Regions from separate parts of the Homo sapiens genome. Here region 2 is linked to region 1. Evidence: fine-mapped expression QTL. Tissue or cell type: whole blood. Region 1 holds a variant in brackets; the other region holds the start of a gene. All regions are shown on one strand. Distances are between the middles of the regions.

Region 1 (8,104 bases):
AGAATATCTACCTTCAGAGACTTGAAGACAATTGTCACAGCCTTCCAAACCAGCCTTTCTCAATTATAAAGGTCACAGTCAGTTATTTTTATTTATTTATTTAGAGATAGAGTCTCACTCTGTCACCTAGGCTGGAGTGCAGTGGCGCGATCTGGGCTCACTGCATTGTCCGCCTCCCAGGTTCAAGTAGCTGGAACTACAGGTGCCCACCACCACACCTGGCTAATTTTTGTATTTTTAGTAGAGACGGGTTTTTGCCGTGTTGGCCATGCTGGTCTCAAACTCCTGGCCTCAAGTGATCTGCCCATCTCAGTCTCCTGTAATCCCAGCAATTTGGGAGGCCGAGGCAGGCAGATCACTTGAGATCAGGAGTTCGAGACCAGGCTGGCCAACATGGTGAAACCCCGTCTCTACTAAAAATAAAAAAATTAGCCGGGCACAGTGGCACACACCTGTAGTCCCAGCTACTCAGGGGGCTGAGGCAGAAGAATCACTTGAACCTAGAAGGTGGAGGTTGCAGTGAGCAGAGATCCTGCCACTGCACTCCAGCCTGGGTGGCAGAGAGAGACTCCGTTTCAAAAAAAAAAAAAAAAAAAGTAACAAGGTTTGAGAAAGGTTTAGTTTTTCATATAAATTTGAGTGGTTTCAAAATTATCCCTGCAATAACATCACTCTCATTCACCTGCTTTCCTGAGTGGGAGAGAAAGGGGTGAAATCACAGCTTGAACGCTGCAATTATGAATCCTGGGCAATTATAAACTATCATGATGTTTTTCTTCCTTATATAAGTTTAGCTCTTTTTTTTTTTGATCAATATCTAGGTGATCCCATGAGCAAGCATGTCATACATGTGACTTAGAGTTATTGCAGGGGAGAAGGGTTAAGGACTGCTTTTTGAAACCTACATAGTTCTTTTAATCACTCTATTTATTTTTATTTATTATTTATTTTTGAAATGGAGTTTTGCTCTTGTTGCTCAGGCTGGAGTACAATGACTCAATCTTGGTTCACTGCAACCTCCACCTCCCAGGTTCAAACGATTCTTCTGCCTCAGCCTCCCGCGTAGCTGGGATTACAGGTACCCGTCACCACGCCTGGCTAATTTTTTTTAGTAGAGACAGGGTTTTACCTTGTTGGCCAGGCTGGTCTTGAACTTCCGACCTCAGGAGATCCTCCTGCCTCGTCCTCCCAAAGTGCTGGGATTACAGGCATGAGCCACCGTGCCCAGCCTTATTTATTTATTTATTTATTTATTTATTTTATTTTTTTTTTTTGAGACGGAGTCTCACTCTGTTGCCCAGGCTGGAGTGCAGTGGCGCGATCTCGGCTCACTGCAAATTCCGCCTCCCAGGTTCACGCCATTCTCCTGCCTCACCCTCCCGAGTAGCTGGGACTACAGGCACCTGCTACCACGCCCGGCTATTTTTTTGTATTTTTAGTAGAGACGGGGTTTCACCATGTTATCCAGGATGGTCTTGATCTCCTGAACTCGTGATCCGCCCGCCTCAGCCTCCCAAAGTGCTGGGATTACAGGTGTGAGCCACTGCGCCCGGCCTACTTTTTTTTATTTATTTTTTTGAGACGAAGTCTCACTCTGTCACCCAGGCTGGAGTGCAATGGCACGATCTCGGCTCACTGCAACCTCTGCCTCCTGGGTTCAAGCAATTCTCCTGTCTCAGCCTCCCCAGTAGCTGGGATTACAGGCATGCGCCACTACACCTGGCTAATTTTTTGTATTTTTAATAGAGAAGTGGTTTCACCAAGTTGGCCAGGCTGGTCTCAAACTCCTGACCTCAAGTGGTCCACCTGCCTCAGCCTCCCAAAGTGCTAGGATTACAGGTGTGAGCCACTGTGTCCAGCCATTATTATTATTATTATTATTATTATTATTATTATTATTATTTTATTATTATTTTTGAGACAGAGTCTCGCTCTGTCGCCCAGGCTGGAGTGCAGTGGCGCAATCTCGCTCACTGTAAGCTCCACCTCCCGGGTTCACGCCATTCTCCTGCCTCAGCCTCCCGAGTAGCTGGGACTACAGGTGCCCGGCTAATTTTTTGTATTTTTTAGTAGAGACGGGGTTTCAGTGTGTTAGCCAGGATGGTCTTGAGGGAAGAGAGCGACCATCTCATATTGTTTTATACTCAGTACCTGTTTTAAAAAAAAGCAACAAGGAAGTAAAACCAAAGACAGGCAGCCCAGCGCCAGGCCTGAAACCAGGCCTGGGCCTGCCTGGCCTAAACCCAGTAGTTAAAAATCAACTCATAATTTAGAAACCGATGTTATTCATAGATTCCAGACATTGTATAGAAGAACATTGTGAAACTCCCTGCCCTGTTCTGTTTCTCTCTGACTACCAGTGCATGAAACCCGTCACGTACCCCTTGTTTGCTCAAATCAATCACGACCCTTTCATGTGAAATCTTTAGTGTTGTGAGCCCTTAAAAGGGACAGAAATTGTACACTCGGGGAGCTCGGATTTTAAGGCAGTAGCTGGCCGATGCTCCCAGCTGAATAAAGCTCTTCCTTCTACAACTCGGTGTCTGAGAGGTTTTTTCTGCGGCTCGTCCTGCTACAGTCTCGATCTCCTGACCTCGTGATCCGCCTACCTCGGCCTCCCAAAGTGCTGGGATTACAGGCATGAGCCACGGTGCCCGGCCCAGCCATTTTTATTTTTTTGAGACAGGTGTTGCTCTGTTGCCCAGACTGGAGTGCAGTGGTGCAATCATAGCTCAATGCAGCCTCTACCTTCTGGGCTCAAGCAATCCTCCCACCTCAGCCTCCCAAGTAGCTGGGACTACAGGTGTGTGCCATCATGCCCAGCTAATTTTTAAATTTTCTGTAGAGACAGGGTCTCCCTATGATGCCCAGGCTGCCCTCTCAAACTCCTGGGCCCAAGGGATCCTCCTGCTTTGGCCTCCTAAAGTGCTCAGATTACAGGCATGAAACACCATGCCAGGCCTTAATCACTCTTTATATGACATGGTTTCACATGCAAATGATTGCTGGACACATGCATTATCTCATCTAATCCTATTTCAATCTCACAGCAACCTTTATTATGATGATGATTTTTAGACATGGGAAAACTTCGGCTCAAAGAGGTTAAGTAATTTGCCCAGGTCACGCAGCTAGCAGGTAAGTGAATCTGGATTCTGATCCAGCCCTTTCCAGTGCTTAAGCTGTGCTTATCTTTCTGCACGCCCACTGCCCTTCCTCCTGATTACCTTTCCCTGGATGGGTCCTTCTGGTCAATGAGATGCTCCGAAGAGTGGGTGACATCATACACTGTCCTGAATTGTTCTCAGATCCTTTCATGAGTTTGTGTCTTTTTTCTCCAACACCGCAGACTCTCCACTTATGCCACTGATCCCCTACAGGACCTGGCCCAGGAATAGGCCCATGACTGGCAACTCTGGGAGGCCTGATATCTGAACACTGGCTCCACCATTTACTAGTGCACTTGTGGGATAATAATGGCACTTAATTCTCAGGGCTGTTGTGAGGGTTAAACAGTGATGGAAAGTTCTCAGAACAGCACCTACACACTCAAAACATACACCTATTGTCACTGCCTAACTTAATTGATTGAGTTATCCTGGACTCCTCTTTTCTTCACCCTCCAGTGATCCACTTAATTACCAAGTCCATTCCCTCCCCTTTCTCTGGCCTCATCTTTTGCCTTGATTACCACGAACAGCCTCCTAAAGGGTCTCTCTCCTTC[C/T]AAGATAACTTCCACAGCCCCCCATACTTCCTCTTCTGTAACACTCATCACAGTTGTGGTGACTTATTCAACATCTATTCAGCAACAAAATCTAGCTGCATGAGGTAAGGGAGTGTCGATGTCGGATTCCGACATTTATCTCCAGCTGCTACCACTGCAGCAGGAGTGAAGTACCCTCTCAACCCTTGTGGTAGACGCTCAATAAATATTTGTTAAAAAAAAAAACATGTTTTTGGCCAGGTGCGGTGACTCACACCTATAATCCCAGCACTTGGGAAGGCTGAGGCGGGTGGATCACCAGAGGTCGGGAATTTGAGACCAGCCTGACCAAAAAGGAGAAACCCCATCTCTACTAAAAATACAAAATTAGCTGGGCATGGTGGTGCATGCCTGTAATCCCAGCTACTTGGGAAGCTGAGGCAGAAGAATCGCTTGAACCCAGGAGGTGGAGGTTGCGGTGAGCCGAGATCACGCCATTGCACTCCAGCCTGGGCAACAAGACCAAGACTCCGTCTCAAAACAAAAAACAAAAACATGTTTTCAGAAAAATGTACTGACTCCTGTTGTAGGCTTTCTTAGGAACGAGCCAGAACGTCCTTAAGATCCGATGGAAGTATTCAGGAATGTAGTTTAGTCAATGCTGAAAACCTCCATCATGGCCAGAATTGAATTTAAAACATCCATCTGGCCTGGCCACTCCCTTGTTCACAAGCCTCTGGTTCTCCATAATATTCAAGATAAAGTTCAAATGGCTCCTTTGTCCCCACTTCATTGCTGGGAAAAGCAAGGCACCCAGGAGAGGATATAGGGCATGGAGCATAAAGGGAGATGGGTTGGGAGCAGATTGAGGAACTAAAGAGTTCAAATTTCCAACCTGGGCCCTGACCCAGACCAAAGCCAGGATACAGGTATGCAAGAAGTGAAAGGAGGAACAAGGTTTACCTTGTCTGCGCTAAGCTGTGCAGGAAAGCTCGTTTTGGAAGAGAAGAGGGCAGGGCCTGCCCCAGCACACCCCTAAGGCCTGGCTCCCACCCCAACTTACGCCTGCTTGATCTGGGCATCCTCTGAATTGCGAGTGATCCCGAGCACAGAGTAATAATCCTGGCCCATGGCTGGCTAGCTGGCAGTCAGGCCCTGGATAGTCCTCAGACTCTAGCAAGGCTGTTAGTTGGCTTCCTTGGTTGCTCCTGACAACCGCACAGGTGCACTCTGGGAGTTGTAGTCCCACTTCCCTAAACAAATTTCAGCTCTGCCACAGAGAGGAGTCAGTGAAAGGACTGGGGGAGAGCTGGGGCTGATTCTGCGACCCTGTGAAAGGTCACTCAACTCGGAAATTGAAGACTCACAGGGCTCTGTTTTATTTTGTTTTTGTTTTTAAAGAGAGCAGTAATTAGTTTTAATAAAAAGGTTTTAGAAGAAATGCATTTGGCTAATTTTTTAAAAATACATTTATTTTAGAACAGTTTTAGAGTTTAGAAAAGTTGAGAAGACAGTACAGAGAGTTCCCATATACCTCACATCCACATTCTCCTATTTTATTATTATTATTATCATTATCATGTTTTTGAGACAGGGTCTTCACTCTGTCACCCAGGCTGGTGGGCAGTGGCAGGATCACACCTCACTGCAGTCTCAACCTCCCAGGCTCAAGGGATTCTTCCACCTCAGCCTTCCAAGTAGCTGAGACACAGGCGTGCACTACCATGCCTGGCTAATTTTTGTATGTTTTGTAGAGATGGGGTTTCACCATGTTGCCCAGACTGGTCTTGAACTCTTGGGCTCGGCTTGGCCTCCCAAAGTGCTGGGATTACAGGTGTGAGCCACTGCATTCACATTCCCCTATTATTAACATCTTACATTAGTATGGTACATTTGTCACAAATAATGACCAATATTGATACATTATTATTAACTAAAATCCACATTTTATTCAGATTTACTAGTTGTTTTAACCTAATATCTTATTTCTGTTCCGGACCCCATCCAGGATGCCACGTTACACTTAGCTGTTGCATCTCCTCTGGTGCCTCCTGACTGTGACAGTTTCTCAGACTTTCCATGTTTTTGATGACCTTGACAGTTTAAGTAATAATGGTCAGGTGTTTTGTAGAATGTCCTGCAATTGGAATTTGTTTGGTGTTTTTCTTTTTGTTTGTTTGTTTTTGTTTTTTGAGATGGAGTCTCACTCCATCGCCCAGGCTGGAGTGCAGTGGCACAATTTCAGCTCACTGCAACCTCTGCCTCCCGGGTTCCAGCGATTCTCCTGCCTCAGCCTCCCAAGTAGCTGAGATTACAGGCATGTGCCACCATGCCCGGCTAATTTTTGTTATTTTTACTAGAGACGGGGTTTCACCATGTTGGCCAGGCTGGTCTCAAACTCCTGACCTCAAGTGATCCACCCACCTCAGCCTCCCAAAGTGTTGGGATTACAGGCGTGAGCCACCGCGCCAGCCCTCCTTCCCCACTTGCTGTATTGCACTCTTTGGAAGGCAGTCACTGTGCGGCCCACCCTTACAGTGAGGGAGTTATGCTCCACCTCTCTGAGTACAGCAGAGCCCTGTTTTCCATGCACATCCCAAATCCAACTGGTCACCAAGCTCAGTCCATTCTGCTTCCTAGACAACCTCTCAAGCCCAGCTCCTCTGCTCTTCCTCCTCATAATCAGGGCCCAGCTCTGGATTCATCTTTCAGCAAGACCACAACAACTTCCTCGCGGGCCTGCCTGCCTTGTCTCTGTTCTGCAAAGCCCACACTCCTCATTACTTCGAGTGAACTCCAAACTGCTTACCATGGCACACAGGCCCTCTGTGATCTGGTGCCTCCCTTTCCACCTGAGCTCTCACCACTGCCCTACACGCACCCACTGCTTGTCAGAATGGACTGCAGTGCCTGCCACTGCCCAAACCAGCCATCCCCTCTCCTCATTCACCTCTGCTGCTACCTCTGCTCAGAACCTCCCACCCCACCCACCACAGACCCTCGCCTCAACCCAGCTAACTTCTATTTGTTTTTTCTTCTTAGGAAGAAAAAGAGCAGCATTAGAACATTCCTTGTTGAAGGAATATTGCCCCGATGTGCCCCTCCCTACCTGTTTGTAATTCTCTTGCTTTTCTTTAGAGCTTTACTCCATATGCCTGTACCCAGTGGTGTGCTGTTTTGTGGCATTTGCCAGTTCTTCCCAAGCCAGTACAAGCCAGCTCCAGTGCCACACTGCAAATATCCACAGCAACATATTTACCTTTTCATATTTTTGAACTTTATATAAATGGTATCATTTATACAAATGGTAGGTATTTGTGTGTGTGACTTATTGTCACAGGCTGTATAGTACTCTCTGTTGATGAACATTTGGGTATATGCGCCCACTTTGCAAGGCAATGCCAAAGTTTTCTGGTGTGGTTTTCTAATTTACGCTGGCAACAGCAGTGTATCAGTTTCTTTTGCTTCATATCCTTACCAACTCTTTTTTTTTTTTAAGACAGGGTCTCCCTCTATTGCCCAGGCTGGAGTGCAGTGGTGCGATCATGGCTCAACCTCCTGCAGCCTCGACTTCCTGGGCTTAAGCAATCCTCCTGCCTCAGCCTCGCAAGTAGCTGGAAACCCAGGCACACACCACCACATCAGGCTAATTTTTAAATTTTTTGTAGAGACGAGGTCTTGCCATATTGTGCAAACAGGTCTTGAACTCATGGGCTCAAGTGATCCTTCCATCTCAGCTTCCCAAAGTGCTGGGATTATGGACATGAGCCAACACTCCTGGCCCTCACCAACTCTTGATGTCAAGTTTTAAAACGTTTGCCAATATAGTAGGCATAAAGTGGCATCTCATTGTGGATTTTAATTTGCATTTCTTGGTTGAGTATCTTTTCATACTTATTGGCCATTTGTTTTTCCTCATTGTGAAACACCTATTTATGTTTTTGCCCATTTTTTTCTATTTGACTATCCTTTTTACAAACTGACAGGCCGGGCATAGTGGCTCATGCCTGTAATCCCAGCACTTGGGGAGGCCGAGGTGGATGGATCACCTGAGGTCAGGAGTACAAGACCAGCCTGACCAACATGGAGAAACCCCATCTCTACTAAAAATACAAAATTAGCTGGACATGGTGGCGCATGCCTGTAATCCCAGCTACTTGGGAGGCTGAGGCAGAAGAATAGCTTGAACCTGGGAGGCAGAGGTTGCGGTGAGCAGAGATTGTGCCACTTCACTCCAGCCTGGGCAACAAGAACGAAACTCCGTCTCAAAAAAAAAAAAAAAAAAAAAAACTGACTAGTGGCTTTTTATGTTTTTTGAAAACAAACTCTTTGTTGATAATATGAAATACGAATCCTTTCTTCAACTTGAAGCTTTTTTCACCTTTTTAAAAGTCAAATGTA
Region 2 (8,104 bases), 58 kb before region 1:
GATTCAAACCTATCCTGGAGGTGACGCTGCCTCCTTCTCCAGAGGCACAGAAAGAGTCAGGGCTGGGGTTCACGTCCCAGCTCTGCTACTCAGAGCTGTGGGACCTTGAGTTTATTCCACCTGAATGTAGTTTCCTTATCCACGACATGGGGAGAATGATATACCCCCCATATGGGGTTGAGGTAAGGGTCAAGCAAGATAAGGTACGTAAAGCGCTTTGTAAACCAGGCAGCTCTACATAAATATTAACCAAAGGACCAAAAGATGAGAGAAACCAGCGTCATCCATTGGTGGTGCCATATCCTCAGTGGTAACCTAGCTGACTTCTTCCTCTCCAGGACAAGAGCGAAGCCACCAGGGGAGCTCTCTCCCAAAGGCCTTGTCGCCCCAGACCTAACTCGCTCCCCCTCAACCTGCCTGAGGAAGAAACTCTCAGGATTGCACGGATATTTTCTTCTCAGTACTCCCAGAAAGACTGACGCAGCCTGAGGGGCTGGGGGGAAGGAGACACCTGCCCACCCTCCGTCAGCTTTGTCCAGCTTGCAGGAGGCACCAGGTCTGGCTCCTTCAGGGCTGTCACAGTCCTGAAACCACCACTTGCCTAGGCCACGGATGCCTCAAGAGACCCGGTCAGCCCAGACTGGAGGAGTGCCCCAAACCAGTCCAGTGTCCACTTGCCAGAATTTCAGCTCCTTTTTTCTGTGGTGAGGCAAAGGCTAGAAATAAAATGGAATCCGCGCCCAAGTGGGACCCAAGCAGGCATCTTTCGGTGGAGAAACGCCCCCCAGTGTCCTTGACACAGCTGACTGCTGGCATGAGCCCACCCTCTGCCTGAAGATGCAGGACCATTTTTGCCTTAAAAGTTGGGGAGGAGGGACATGTAGATTGTGTGCATTGTGCATAGTCAAGGAAATCCTAGGGCCACCTCCAGTTCATTTGTGTGGGAACAAGGATATTTTATAGATACAAATTATTTTTATGCTGTGTTGAATTAATCAATTAGGAGAGGAAGGGGAAATCACTTCCTTCAAACTTTTTATCTGATTGTCTAAAATTCTAACCATGCTTTTAACTTATTATTTTTACCCAGCTCTGAAGGTCATTGTTCTTGCCTGTGTTTGAATAAAATCATATTGGTGTTTGTAATCTGTGCACAAGTGTTTCGCTGGAGTGGGGATGCTAGGAATTCGTGTGTGCCCTAACTGCCAGAGAGAAAGATTAACAACCATACACCCCACGCAGACGAAGATCAATCACCATGAGACTTCTGGCTCCTCCAGAATCAGGTTGGTCCAGATGACAGTGACACCCAGTATTTCCTTTGCTGATGCTTGAAATCCATCAGACAAAGCCCCGTGGGGAGGACAAGAAAAGGGCCATGGATGGGTGCAGTGGCTCACACCTGTAATCCAAACACTTTGGGAAGCCGAGGCAGGCAGATCACCTGAGGTCAGGAGTTTGAGACTACCCTGGCCAACCTGGCAAAACCCCGTCTCTACTAAAAAAAAAAAAAATACAAAAATTAGCTGGGCGTGGTGCACGCCTGTAGTCCTAGCTACTCAGGAGGCTGAGGCAGGAGAATCACTTGAACCCAAGAGGTGGAGGTTGCAGTGAACCGAGACCACGCCACTGCACTCCAGCCTGGACAACAGAGCAAGACTCCGTATCACAAAAAAAAAAAAAAAAAATGGGGTCGCGGGAGCCAAATGTGCAGAGTGAGCAGTGTGGCTGGGCAACAGGCTTTCACCCCCAAGTACATGTCACTTCACTCAGTCCTCAAAACAGCTCTCTAACTCTAGATATTATGATATCTAGAGTTTCTGTAAGTTCAGTGTTTTGCCTCTGTTTGTGTAGTTAGGAAGTGATTAACCACACAAGAAATCCCAGAGGTATTGCAAGGCTACTGCTTTCAGTAATCAAAACAAGGTACAGCCAATAAGTGCTCTGAATTTAGGGACTTCATGGAGAAAGACCATGTGGGCTGGGGCAGTCAGGGAAGGCTTCCTAGAAGAGACAGGTCTTGGGGTGAGCACAGAGAATTGGCCCAGGCTGTGGACAGCTATAGAGAGAGAGCCAGGAAAGCCTGTGAGCAGTGTGCAGCTGGAGATAGAGACCAGTCTCACTGCGTCTGAGCCTCTGTGGCCTCGTCTGTAAAACAGAGATAATCACCCCAGCTTCATGGGGTTGTGAGGAAGATCAAATGAGATGACATTTGTGAAAGTGCTTCGCCTACTTTTGGCACATGGTGGAAGCTTAGGAAATGTCAGCCCCACCCACTCTCCTGACTTTCGGGAGCAAACCAGTAGAGAGGCAAGCATGCAGCCACTGGGGCAGGCAGAGCACTCCTGGGCCTCAGAGGGTGCAAAATGATGCGGGAACCTCAAGGAAGGAGTGGGTGCTGCCTTCTTGGTGACAAGCCCTCCCGCTTCTATTTATCTCTGCTCCGACGCCTGCCAGCCCACCCCTCCCCAGCACCACAGAGGCCAGCCTCCCTCTCAAGTCACCAGCACAGAGCATTCAAGGCCCAGGGCCCCACTTCCCTTGGGGCCCAGGGGACCTAAAGAGGGGCAGTCAGGGCCCAGGCCTGAGGGGGAAAGCCCCAGGTAAAGAATATTCCTCCAAATCCCACTCCAGCTCCCGCAGACAACCTGATCGGGGTCAGGAGGACACACTCCTACCCCAGGCTGAGAGCAGCCTCTGATAACACAAAAGGACCCTGAGGGTGGAGACCTCCCACCTCCACTTCAAAACAGTGTGTTATTTATCAATATCTTATCCCCGGAAGTTGAATCTATCTCCCAGTGCCAACTCCGAGATAAATGACTTGACCAGGCGTGTGGCATGGATTAAGGCATGAGATAGGTGTTCCCACCACCAGAACGAGCCAGTGGCTGCCTCTCTTCCCTTTGAGCCCTCCCTCCACAGAGACCTGTGAATAGGTGTTTCTGATCCCTAGGCTGGTTGCATCCCAACCCAGAGCAGGCAGCCTTCGGACTTCTAGCATGGGCTGGCCTCAGGACATGGAGCCAAAGCAGGCAGACCTGGCCCTGCCCTCAAGCTCCCAAGCTAAAGAGAGCCTGGCCCTCCCTCCCACTAGGTTTCTCCAGAGCCTGCTGCCTCCTGGTTTGGGCTTCTACTCTATTCTTCCCCCACAGACTCCCTGCAATTTACTGCATCACCTCTAGACTAGCAATTACAGATGGAGCTCAGAACCTACTTCCTGAGCCTTCCTAATCTCAGCAGCCCTGACAGCCACTTCCCTCTTAACACTAATGCAGCTGCTTATTCTGCTGACATTAAGGTCAGGGCCTGGTCCAAGGAAGAGGACAGGTACAGCCCAAGCTTTGCACTTGAACATCCATGCTTCTGACCACCTGCCCTGTGACGCTGGCTCTGTGCCCCAGTCCAGAAAAGACTTCTGCCTACTCCTCCTCTGCCCTACCCAGTTAACTCCCTTTCCTTCCCTCCCTTCTGCTTCTCACTCCTCCCCTCCCTTCTCTTCTTCTTCTCCCCTTCCCCCATCACCTGGGGCCCGATTCAGCTGTGCCCAGCCCTTACTCTGAGTGCCCACAGATGGAGCCTCCAGTAGCTTCTGTGGGGCACCCTTCCACCAGGTCCCAGCTCCCTTGGCTCCAGCAGTGTCCATGCTAAAGCCTCCAAGTGTCATGTTGGAGAGAATGGTGGTCACAGTAGATAAGCCCAAAATGCCTTACAGTTTACAGGCTGGAGTCAGGCCCCGCCACGTGCTGGCTACATGACTTCCCTGAGATTCCATTTCCTCCTCAGTAAAATAAGTGGTAAGATTTTAGGATCCCCAGCACTAAAAAGAAACGAAATACTGATACAGGCTCCAACATGGATGAATTTTGAAAGCATTACTATACTAAGTGAAAGAAGCCAGTCACAAACAAGCACATATTGGATGATTCCATTTCTAGGAAGTGTTCAGAACAGGCAAATTTATAGAGACAGAAAGTAGATTGATTAGTGGTTGCCTGAGGCTGGGGAGCGGGGGAAGGGAGGTGACTACCAATGTGTATGGAGTTTTTCCAGGGTGAGAGGGTGATGAAAATGTTCTAAAATAGATTGTGTTGATGGTTGTGCCACTCAGAATATACTAAAAACCATTTGAATTGTGCACTTGAAACAGATGAATTGTACGGTATGTGAATTCTATATCAATAAATCTGTAATTTAAAAAAAAAAAATTAGGTCGGGTGCAGTGGCTCACACCTATAATCCCAGCACTTTGCCAGACTGAGGCAGGAGGATCACTTAAGCCCAGGAGTTCAAGACCAGCCTGGGGAACACAGCAAGACCTCGTCTCTACTAAAAAATTTTAAATTACAAAAAAAAAAAGTAAAAAAAATAGAATCCTAATAGTACCTATCTCATAGGATTGTGGAAAATAGTAGTAATGTATGTAAAATATTTAGCACATAGTAGGCACAAAGAAATGACATTATTATTAAGAGACCTGGGAGAGCTGTGCCCAGCCTATCGTGGGAGGCCTTGACCTTTGGACTCAAAAGTGGCAGCAGGTCCACCCCCCCATACACCCTTGTCACCAAGGAAGCGTCCACAGCTTAAAGGAGCTATATTAAAGCACCCCAAGTCAAGAGGACTGAACCAGATCTGGAACTCACTCACCTCCCCTCTCACCTCACTGCCCTCACCAGCCAGCCTCTTGTCAAGTGATCAGGCTGTCAACCAACTTCTCTAGGATAAGGTTTCAGGTCAGCCCGTGTGTATAAGACCAGTGCCAAGCCAGAAGCAGCAGAGACAACAGTGAATGACAAGGAGGGGCCATCCAATCCCTGCTGCCACCTCCTGGGATGGAGCCCTAGGGAGCCCCTGTGCTGCCCCTGCCGTGGCAGGACTCACAGGTAAGACCCCTTTCTCCTCCCTCATCCCTTCCCCTCTCCCTCTCCCTTCTCCTTGTTCTCCCTTTCATTGGAGGCTTTCAGAGAGCAGCCCCGAGCAGTCAGGGCTCACTAGCTGCAGCTTGTCAGACCTGATAGAGATTCAGTCCAGCCGCCACCTTATGAAAAGGGAGCTGTGGCCTTGATGAGGGTACTGTGGCAGGGCTGGGGCTTGAACCCAACACCCGTGTCACTCACTCAAGACTCACACCCCCTTTGCCTTGCTGGCTGCCTCTGGTGGGATTTTGCAAATCCCCATAGACAGGAAGTGGCTTTCTTCTTTGCCTGCCCCAGAATCTCTGCGATTCCTCCAGAGCATAAATCCCTCTCTTTCCATGAGGACCCTGGGGCCCTCTTCCTGAGTAGGGATGACAGGGGCACTTCTGACCTGAGGCGTGGTCCAGGTCATTTGCTGGGAGCTTTACAGAGCCCATGGTCTCTGCCCAGACGGCTTCTTCAGTGGGCTGCTGTGAAGGCTTTGCCGGGAGGGTGGGTTGGAGTTGGGGAGGCAACTGGTGTTGGGTAGGATGTCTCAAAATGGGGTCCTCTTCCCCTGCTTCAGAGCTACCACAGGGAGTTTTCCTAATGCAGATTCCTAGGCCCCACCCCAGACCTAAATCAGGATCTCTGGGGCTGAGAGCTGAGAATCTGCTCTGTAAACAAGCAGCTCAAGGGATCCTTGGCTCTCCCTGAAGTCTGAGACTCTCTGGGCAGTGAAACAGGCGCAGCTTCAGATGTCAGACAAACGTGGGCACCAATCTCAGCTCCAGCACTTCAGCTGTATGACTAGCAAAAGCCCTGGAAGCCTCAGGTCCCTGGTTTACGAAATGAGAATAATAATAGCAACTACTTGTAGCCTTATGAAGGGATCAAATCAGTCAGTGTCTGTAAAGCCCTCAGCACGGTATCTGGTGCAAGAAGCAACCAGCAAACATTAATGGACCATGCTGACTAGAACATCCCATCCCTCAGGAGCCCCAGCAGAGCTACAGTAATGAGGGTTCCACTTTTGACTTCTTCCTCCACTGGCCAGTGGCAAAAGGCTGCCGGCTGCTAGGGGTCTAGGAGAGTCTGGAGTGAATTGGGAAGAAGATTGGGGAGTGCTGGCCTCAAGGCACCTCCTACCTGTGCCCACCACTGTGGCTTTCCCTCCTCCCGCAGCTTGACTACTGAAAGTTCTAGAGCCCCAAGGTGGGCTTTTGACCTGAGTCTGTGTCCATCCATTCCATTTTCCATGAGTGGCTAAGAACTGCCCCTCTTGTCAAGTGATCACGCTGAGGCCAAGAGTTCAAGACCAGAATAGGCAACATAGAGAGACCCCCATCTCTACAAAAAATAAAAAATTAGCTGGGTATGGTGATGCACACCTGTAGTCCCAGCTACTCGGGAGGCTGAAGGTGGGAGGGTCACTTGAGTCCAAGAGGTCAAGGCTGCAGTGAGCCTGGATTGCACCACTGCACTCCAGCCCAGGTAACAGAGTGAGACCCTGTCTCAAAAAAAAAAAGGAGGCAGTTTGATATTGGGGAGAACAGATGCCTGAGCCTCGGTTTCCTCATGTATACAGTGCAGGTACCACTATCAGCTCTGCCTACCCCTGGTAAGGAGGGGAGGGAGAGGGTCAGGAGGAGGATTGCAAAATTCAAGGGATAGGAACGTGACCTGTTTTTATAGGCCAAATTCATGCAGCTTAAGTATGGCACCACCCAGGCTTCTCCCTTTCTAAAGCCCCTCCTGGGTAAGGAAGAGTTCCTGGGAGCCAGGCCAGACATCACTCCATCAGCCTTCTCTGGCCTGTCTCCTGCAGCCCCACCGCTGCACTGAAGCCCAGGGCTGTGGAGCAGCCTCTCTCCTTGGACCTCCTCTCGGCCCTAAAGGGACTGGGCAGAGCCTTCCAGGACTATGGTTGGACTGAAGCCTTCAGACGTGCCTCCCACCATGGCTGTGAAGTTCCTGGGGGCAGGCACAGCAGCCTGTTTTGCTGACCTCGTTACCTTTCCACTGGACACAGCCAAGGTCCGCCTGCAGGTAGGTGCCCTTTGGCCAAGGGTCATTGATCACATGGAAGGAGGGGCTAGTTCTCTCCCATATCCCCCATGACGTGTGCCCACATGCCCTTCCTCAGAACCCTGACAAAGACTCTCACTCCACTGCTTAGGACCCTTCCTTGCCTCCTCCCATCACCATCCACCAGGACAAAAAAATCTAAATTCTTTGCATGATGTGACAGGGCCCTTTATGGGCTAGGCCCTACTTTGTAAAGCATGCAGTGTGAGGTAAAAGTAAGGAATTAACTGTGTGACCTTGGGCAAGCCACGAAGCACTTATAAAATGGGAAAAACAATCTGTCCCTCTGATTTACTCTGAGGATCAAACACCAAGCCATGTGTATAATACTGCTTTGTGAATGGTAAAATGCTGCGCAGACACCAGTGATTTCTACTGTGACCAGCATGGTTGTTCTCAGGCCCAGCCCAGGCAGGCCCAGCCCCAGCAGGGTTCCTGTGCACGCAGCCCCTTCTTGCCTTCCCATCTGAGTCCTCACCCCCTGCTATTGTCCCTCAGATCCAGGGGGAGAACCAGGCGGTCCAGACGGCCCGGCTCGTGCAGTACCGTGGCGTGCTGGGCACCATCCTGACCATGGTGCGGACTGAGGGTCCCTGCAGCCCCTACAATGGGCTGGTGGCCGGCCTGCAGCGCCAGATGAGCTTCGCCTCCATCCGCATCGGCCTCTATGACTCCGTCAAGCAGGTGTACACCCCCAAAGGCGCGGACAGTGAGTGACCAGGTCCCTGAACACCAAAGGGGTGGCTGAAAGTGTGTGGGTCAAGAGACCAGGGAAGTCTAGACTCAGAGGCAGAGCCAGGGGCGGGGGGAAGCTGGTACCGGACGCTTATGAGGAGGCTCTGAGTGGACATCAAGGAAGCTGCAGGGGCAGCCCCGCAGAGAACAGCATGTCCCAGAATGCTGCTTAGTAGGGGACACTGGCCCACTCTCTCTGCCCCTCCCAGACTCCAGCCTCACTACCCGGATTTTGGCCGGCTGCACCACAGGAGCCATGGCGGTGACCTGTGCCCAGCCCACAGATGTGGTGAAGGTCCGATTTCAGGCCAGCATACACCTCGGGCCATCCAGGAGCGACAGAAAATACAGCGGGACTATGGACGCCTACAGAACCATCGCCA

Evidence for each region. PIP is the estimated chance that this variant, and not a neighbour inherited with it, causes the effect.
Region 2: UCP3 starts here. The variant in region 1 is fine-mapped to the expression of UCP3 in whole blood (TOPMed, PIP above 0.99).

Annotation. Positions count from the first base shown.
Region 1 is chr11:73,947,800-73,955,903 of GRCh38, reverse strand. DNAJB13 (DnaJ heat shock protein family (Hsp40) member B13) reads right to left here and starts at 4,878. Exons shown (of 8, transcript NM_153614.4): 1 at 4,767-4,878. The coding sequence starts at 4,834. The variant C/T (reference allele first, on the strand shown) is at 3,725.
Region 2 is chr11:74,005,760-74,013,863 of GRCh38, reverse strand. It overlaps UCP3 (uncoupling protein 3), which reads left to right and starts at 4,779. Exons shown (of 7, transcript NM_003356.4): 1 at 4,779-4,886; 2 at 6,727-6,947; 3 at 7,485-7,695; 4 at 7,931-8,104. The coding sequence starts at 6,822. C2CD3 (C2 domain containing 3 centriole elongation regulator) reads left to right here. Exons shown (of 33, transcript NM_001286577.2): 33 at 339-1,146. The coding sequence ends at 479. RefSeq lists enhancers at 1,809-1,958, 4,531-5,170 and a silencer at 5,304-5,484.